Linked DNA regions of Homo sapiens. Changing the gene in region 1 together with any one later gene gives a genetic interaction. Each region holds a gene or a part of one and is shown on either strand. Other genes may lie near its edges.

Evidence for each region.
Region 2: changes in SLC39A3 (region 1) and PTP4A3 together harm fitness less than expected from each alone (positive genetic interaction), as found in Homo sapiens cells (one study listed by BioGRID).

Annotation. Positions count from the first base shown.
Region 1 is NC_000019.10:2,731,947-2,734,751, reverse strand, and holds the end of SLC39A3 (zinc transporter ZIP3), read left to right. Parts: exon of another isoform or gene 1-226; intron 227-1,266; coding exon 1,267-2,001; 3' UTR 2,002-2,228; downstream 2,229-2,805. UniProt on the Homo sapiens protein: Transporter for the divalent cation Zn(2+). Mediates the influx of Zn(2+) into cells from extracellular space. Controls Zn(2+) accumulation into dentate gyrus granule cells in the hippocampus.
Region 2 is NC_000008.11:141,398,521-141,402,328, forward strand, and holds part of PTP4A3 (protein tyrosine phosphatase type IVA 3), read left to right. Parts: intron 1-2,050; exon of another isoform or gene 2,051-3,808. UniProt on the Homo sapiens protein: Protein tyrosine phosphatase which stimulates progression from G1 into S phase during mitosis. Enhances cell proliferation, cell motility and invasive activity, and promotes cancer metastasis.

The DNA.
Region 1 (2,805 bases):
GGCTCACCCAGCGTGAACTGCCCCCAGGGAACACTGGGCGATGCCTGGGGACATTGTGGTTGTCACGATGGGGGGTGCTCCTGGCCTGGAGTGGGTGGAGGCCAGAGACACTGCTCAGCAGCACCCTGCAGTGCCCAGGACGGCCCCGTCCCAGAGAACAATCCAGCCCCGAATGTCAGCACCTTCCCCCTACCCGAGTTGTGAAAATAAAAAATGTTTCCAGACATTGCCAGGTGTCCACACGGGCAGAATCGCCCTGGTTGAGAACCACTGTGTGCGCGTGCTTGTGTGTGCACCTGCGTGTGCGCGTGTGTGTGCGTGCGTGTGTGCACATATGCGTGTGTGTGTGTGTGTGTGCACGTGCGCAGGTTGTAATGAAGTCTCCGCTGGGAAGGAAGCAGGGAAGCAGGCATTGTTGAGTGTCGATTGTGTTGTGATTTTCCTCCACTTTGGTCTCGAGGTCTCTCTGGAGGGTGGCTGTGAACTCTGGCCCTGCCGTGACGAGGCTCCAGGGAGCTGTTGTGGGCGTTTACAGCCTGCCTTTCATGAGACATTTCATCCTGGCGCATAGCCTAATGCCTGCGTGTCCGCCCCGTGAGCAGCTGTCCCTCCCATAGGAGTGTGTACCTCTTGCAGACGCCCTGCGGCTCCCGTCTGACCCACGTCTAGTTTCTCCCCACCAAAGTCTCCCCTCGCTAGGAGAGCCCTGACCAGGAGGAGAGTCGGGCCCAGGCATGTCGGTCAGGGAAGCAGAGAGGAGGCCCCGCGGCAGAACACGCAAGGCCAGTGCAGCTCTTTATGTGTTTATTTTGAGCCGGAGTCTCCCTCTGTCGCCCAGGCTGGAGTGCAGTGGCACGATCTCGTCTCACTGCAACCTCTGCCTCCTGGGTTCAAGCCATTCTCCTGCCTCAGCCTCCTGAGTAGCTGGGATTACAGGTGCTCGCCACCATGCCCAGCTAATTTTTGTATTTTTAGTAGAAACATGTTTCCCCATATTGGCCAGGCTGGTCTCGAACTCCTGGGCTCAAGCAATCCGCCAGCCTCAGTCTCCCAAAATGCTGGGGTCACAGGCATGAGCCACCGCGCTTGGCTGGTGGTGGTGGTGTTAATTCATCACAGGCGAGCCCTTCCTCTCCCACTTGTTTTAACCTCTGTGTGAATCGGGGATTTCTGGACTTTGCTTTGAACGGTGACATCTGGCCAGCCCTGTCGCCGCCACCCCTGAGCGTGGGTCTCTCTCTCTCTCTCGGGTGTCCCCGGCTGCAGCTCCAGAAGGTCCTGAGCCTCGGCCACATCAGCACCGACTACCCGCTGGCCGAAACCATCCTCCTGCTGGGCTTCTTCATGACCGTCTTCCTGGAGCAGCTGATCCTGACCTTCCGCAAGGAGAAGCCGTCCTTCATCGACCTGGAGACCTTCAACGCCGGATCGGACGTGGGCAGCGACTCGGAGTATGAGAGCCCCTTCATGGGGGGCGCGCGGGGCCACGCGCTGTACGTGGAGCCCCACGGCCACGGCCCCAGCCTGAGCGTGCAGGGCCTCTCGCGCGCCAGCCCCGTGCGCCTGCTCAGCCTGGCCTTCGCGCTGTCGGCCCACTCGGTCTTTGAGGGCCTGGCCCTGGGCCTGCAGGAGGAGGGGGAGAAAGTGGTGAGCCTGTTCGTGGGGGTGGCCGTCCACGAGACACTGGTGGCCGTGGCCCTGGGCATCAGCATGGCCCGGAGTGCCATGCCCCTGCGGGACGCGGCCAAGCTGGCGGTCACCGTAAGCGCCATGATCCCCCTGGGCATCGGCCTGGGCCTGGGCATTGAGAGCGCCCAGGGCGTGCCGGGCAGCGTGGCGTCCGTGCTGCTGCAGGGCCTGGCGGGCGGCACCTTCCTCTTCATCACCTTCCTGGAGATCCTGGCCAAGGAGCTGGAGGAGAAGAGTGACCGTCTGCTCAAGGTCCTCTTCCTGGTGCTGGGCTACACCGTCCTGGCCGGGATGGTCTTCCTCAAGTGGTGAGCGGCCTCGCCATTGTCCCTGCCGCCGGAGCCCGCCGGGAGCCCCGGGCCGGACACAGGCCGCGTCCCCCGGCCGCGCGTCCCCCAAGAGCGAGCACTGTGGCCCTGGGCCACCACCTGTGCACAAGGGGCCTCCCGGGACCAGGCTGTGCCCCCGATCCTACACCCTGAGCCTCAGAGCACTGCTACTTTTTAAAATACTTCTTTCTCTTAAAAGTCTTTACCAAAGCTGTGTGGCCATGTCAACCTCGGGCCGTGGGGTGTGGCAACCCACGGGCGGGAGGGCCAGGACCTGGGTCCCGGTGAGATCGGTCAGGACCCTCCTCTCCCTGCCGCACACCCCCAGCCTGTGAATAAGGACGGGAGCATTTGGCTGCTGTGGCCAGAGTGAGGGCCGCGCCGCCTGTGCCTCAGGAGCCAGCTGGGGGCCCTGAGGCCCCAACGTCTACCCTACTCTGTTGCCAGGATCTCGCCGCCCGAGCCCCGAGTGTCTTGAGGCTTATTAGAGGTTGGAGTCACTGCGATGGGACAGCCGGGCTCCGTCCCTCCTGCCACACAAGGCTGTACCCCCTGTGAGTGGGCCATGTACCCTCAGGAGTGCCCTCTCCTTTTCCCTTTGCTGGGTGGCTCCTGGAGCGGGGACCCCTGGGCCAGGACCCCCGGGCCAGGTGAGTGTCACAGTTTCCTGAGACTCACGAGCAGGGCCAGGAGGCAGCTTAAAGATCAGTCCTCAGCTCTGCTTACACACACCGGGGTCTCCAGAGGAAGATGGACCCCACTAGCGGTGGGGCAGGGGCCCCGCGGT
Region 2 (3,808 bases), on another chromosome or scaffold:
CCTGCGGGGATCAGATTTCCCTGGGGTGGGGTCCTGGAAATAGGGCATCAAGAGGAAGTCTCTAACCCTGGGAGTTGGAGGGTCTCGGGTCCATGGCTGAGGGTGGATGTGCTAGAACTGGACTCTGGAACCTGAAGACCCCCGGATGAGGGTGCTCAGGGCCTGGCTGGGGAGACTCTTGCCTTGTTCTCCCCAGTGTCCAGGCCTGGGCTGCCCAGGGGACACTTCAGTTGATGACGTCATTGTCCAGGAGGCTTTTCTCTTGGACCTCAGTTTCCCCTTCTGCAGGATGGGCTGGACCCACTCTGTCTAGCTCTACCACCCCCTAGTCCCTCTGGGGAGCTGCAGGAGCCTGTTCCCACGGCCTCGTCCTCACCCGCCACGGAGACCTCGAAGCCAGGCCTGGCCCAGCTAGAGGAGGTGACGGGTGGCCCTGCCCTGTCCCTGTCCCCATCTCAGTCCCCTTCCCACGGGACCGGTGCTCCCGGCTGCTCTCCTGGCCCTGGGTCCCTCCTGTGACTCAGGCTTCCTGGAAGAGGCTCGGGAGGGCTCGGAGGATTCCCCGCCACCCCACCCAGGGTTTCTGCCCGCCTGCCTCAGGTCCCTGTCACCACCCCTCCTGTGGCACACGGTGTGCTTTACCTGCTCATCCACTCCGCCCTTGCCCCTAGAGCCGGTGCCTCTTACTCCTGGCACCCCCACTCTGGCATCTTCTACTGATGCCTGGAACGCTGGCCCCCTCCTCTGGCTCGCCTGGTCCTGGGGCCCCTGCCAAGGCAAACATCTTCTCCTTTAATCTCCCCGTCCTGGGTCAGCCGCAGAGGCCCTTCCTCCCGGGCTTTGCTTCCCTCTGGCCAGCTGCCCAGAGGCCCATCTGCTGGGAATTGCCGTGTGGAGCTCAGGGGGTCCCTGGGGGTGCCCGGGGCTCCCGGCTGCCCCTCCCCTCGGTGGCCTCCCTGTCCCCTCCGCATGGCCCTGGGGAGCTACAAGGCCTGGCCCTGGCTCTGCCGACTCTCCCTGCTCCTGCCCTTTCTGGGCCTCCGTTTTTGTGTCTGGAGAATGGGGAGCCTGGGGGAGACCCCGGCCCCCACAGCAGATGGGTGGGATCAGGACAAAGGCCTGGCAGCTGAGCTCCAGCCACCTGAGCCAGGCTGCTTGCTTCTGAGTCGGTGACTGCAATGGATGGACGGGGTCCTGGTGGCATGCCCTTTACTCTCTTCCAGGCCTGTGACCTGGGGGAGGGCTGTCCATGGGTGCCTCAGTTTCCCTACCTGCCAGGTTGTGTTCTTGGGGCAGGCTGGGGACGTGCAATGGCAGCACTGCGGGACCCACAAGGAGCTCACATGGGGGAGAGGCGACATTTGAACAACGCTTCAAACATGTAGTTATTGTTTTCTCTTTTTTGAGACGGAGTCTCACCCTGTTGTCCAGGCTGGAATACAGTGGCACGATCTCAGCTCACTGCAAACCTCCGCTTCCCAGGCACAAGCGATTCTCCTGACTCAGCCTCCTGAGTAGCTGGGACCACAGGCATGCGCCACTATGCCCAGCTATTTTTTGTAGAGATGGCATTTCACCATGTTAGCCGGGCTGCTTCTCCTGGACTCAAGTGATCCTCCTGCCCCAGCCTCCCAAAGTGCTGGGATTACAGTGTGAGCCACTGCGCCCGGCCCACCACTGTGCCTGGCCTGCCTCTGCGCCTGGCCCACCTCTGCGCCTGGCCCGCCTCTGCACCTTGCCCACCACTGTGCCCGGCCCACATCTGTGCCCGGCCCACCACTGTGCCAGGCGCAAACGTGGTTATTGTTTTAGACACACATTTGGTGATGTTCATTATAAAAATTCAAACAGCCTGGGAAATACACGGCTGCAGTAGCTCTGGGCTTCTGCTTCATTTCACAAGAACCGTGCCGGCCTCGGGTGCTGTTTTACAGTGTCACTTGAAATTTCCCTGGGTGTTGACTGGGGTCCTCTCCCGATGGCACCCTTGGACCCTGGTCTCTGGGTCTGGTCAGATGCTTGTTTATTAACCAGCCATCCCCCCACCCCCATGATGGGCTCTCCTAAGTGAGGCCATGGACAGCCAGGATGTGCGTCTCGGCACCGGGGTGAGTCTTTCTTGGCCCGCTGGCAGAACCCTGGGTCAGATGGGAGGGTTGTTGGTGCCCGGCTGTGTGTCTGCCAGCCCCTTCATCCCTATCCTGGCTGCTGTGTAGCTCCTGCCTCCCCATAACTCTTGGGGGGCTGCCCGGGTCCACACTGGCCCCGTGGGGATGGCAGTAGGCAGAGAGGGGCGGTCCTGACCCCAGAGAAATCCCATGGGTGAGTAGGACTTGTAGGAGATGGCAGTTCCCTCCCTGGAGCATGTGTCCCCAAGACTTAGAGGTCGTGGTGGGGCAGGAAGCAGGTAGTCAGGGTGGGCTTTTGGGAGGAGATGGCATCACAGTACGGAGGGAGTCATGCACGAGGCACCAGGAAGGGGCAAGCCGGGTGAGGACAGGCTCCTCCTGGGGACCCAGGACCTGACGGAACGGCATCACTCTTAATGGCACCGTCGCGAGCCTCTTCTGGGCCAGCAGCCGGAGCTCACCCAGGGCACATCCTTAAACCTCAGGGTCCCCTGGTGGCAGCTGCCATGGTCGTCCTGTTTCCCAGGGAGGGAAGCTGGTGTCTGAGGCTGGCACTCTGCTAGGTAGCACAGTTGGGGAGTGGCAGTGCTGGGATGGAAGACAGACAAGCTGGCACCTGCACATCTGCACGTCCTGTCGTTGAGGTGACCTCTAGCCAGCCAGCTCATCTGCTCCTTTGCAGATGAGGCCAGAGAGACGGGAGTCTCTGGTGTGGAGGGGAGGGCACTGGGTTTGGTGGGCTGGCCCTGGGGTAACTTGCCTGCCTGTGCTTCAGTGTCCCCCTCTGTAAACAGGGTGTGACGTCCCCCCGGCCATGTCGGAGGCTCCGAGAGGGCAGCGGGTCCATCTCAGCAGATGCTCTGCTGACGGATGCTGCTGGCTGGCCCCTGCTCCCACCCTCCCCTCCTTTGGTAGCCTCCCTGGGCCGGGCTGTTCCCACGGCTGCCCAGCCACAGGAAGCCATCTGGAGGCCTTGTTTACCCCTCCCCCTGGCCTCCCTGGCAGGAAGTCACCGGAAGGGCCGTCCCGAGGGGCCCCGGGCCTGTGAGGACAGCCATCGGCTCAGAGGTCTGTGCTGTGGAGTCCCAGGATAGCATGCGGGGGCAGGGAGCTCAGAGAACAGCAGGTGGAGCGGGGCTCCAAGGCACTGGAGCACGTGGGCCGGAGCATGGACAGAACCATTTACCGAGCGCATCCATCTGTCCATCCACACAGTCACCTACCCCTCCCCCGCTGTGGCCCCAGCAGGGCCCAGTCCCATGAAGCTCACAGTCTCAAGGCATGGACGAGGCCACTCCAGCTTCAGCCCAGGGGGGCCCCGTGATGCCAGGGCCATTCCTCCAGCTCCCGGGATCCCACACCTCCCCTGATATCACACAAGCCACCCTGGGTCGGGGCTGGAGGAGGAGACCTGGGCAGCAGCTGGGGTGTCCAGGAGAAGGGAGTTGGGGAGAGGGGTGCCAGCAGAGGGTGCAGCCTCTAGAAACATTGGAGGCCGCCCTGGGTGACGGGTCTGAGGCTGCAAGGTGTGGGTGGAGCAGGTGAAGGGAGAGGTGGGCAGGCACAGCTGGCAGGGGCTGAAGGCATGGATGGGACCAGTCGGGGTACTTGTGGCCCTGCAGAACCCCTCTCTCCACCACCTCCTCCAGCCCTCTGGCGCCCTGCTCAGGGAGGGCTCC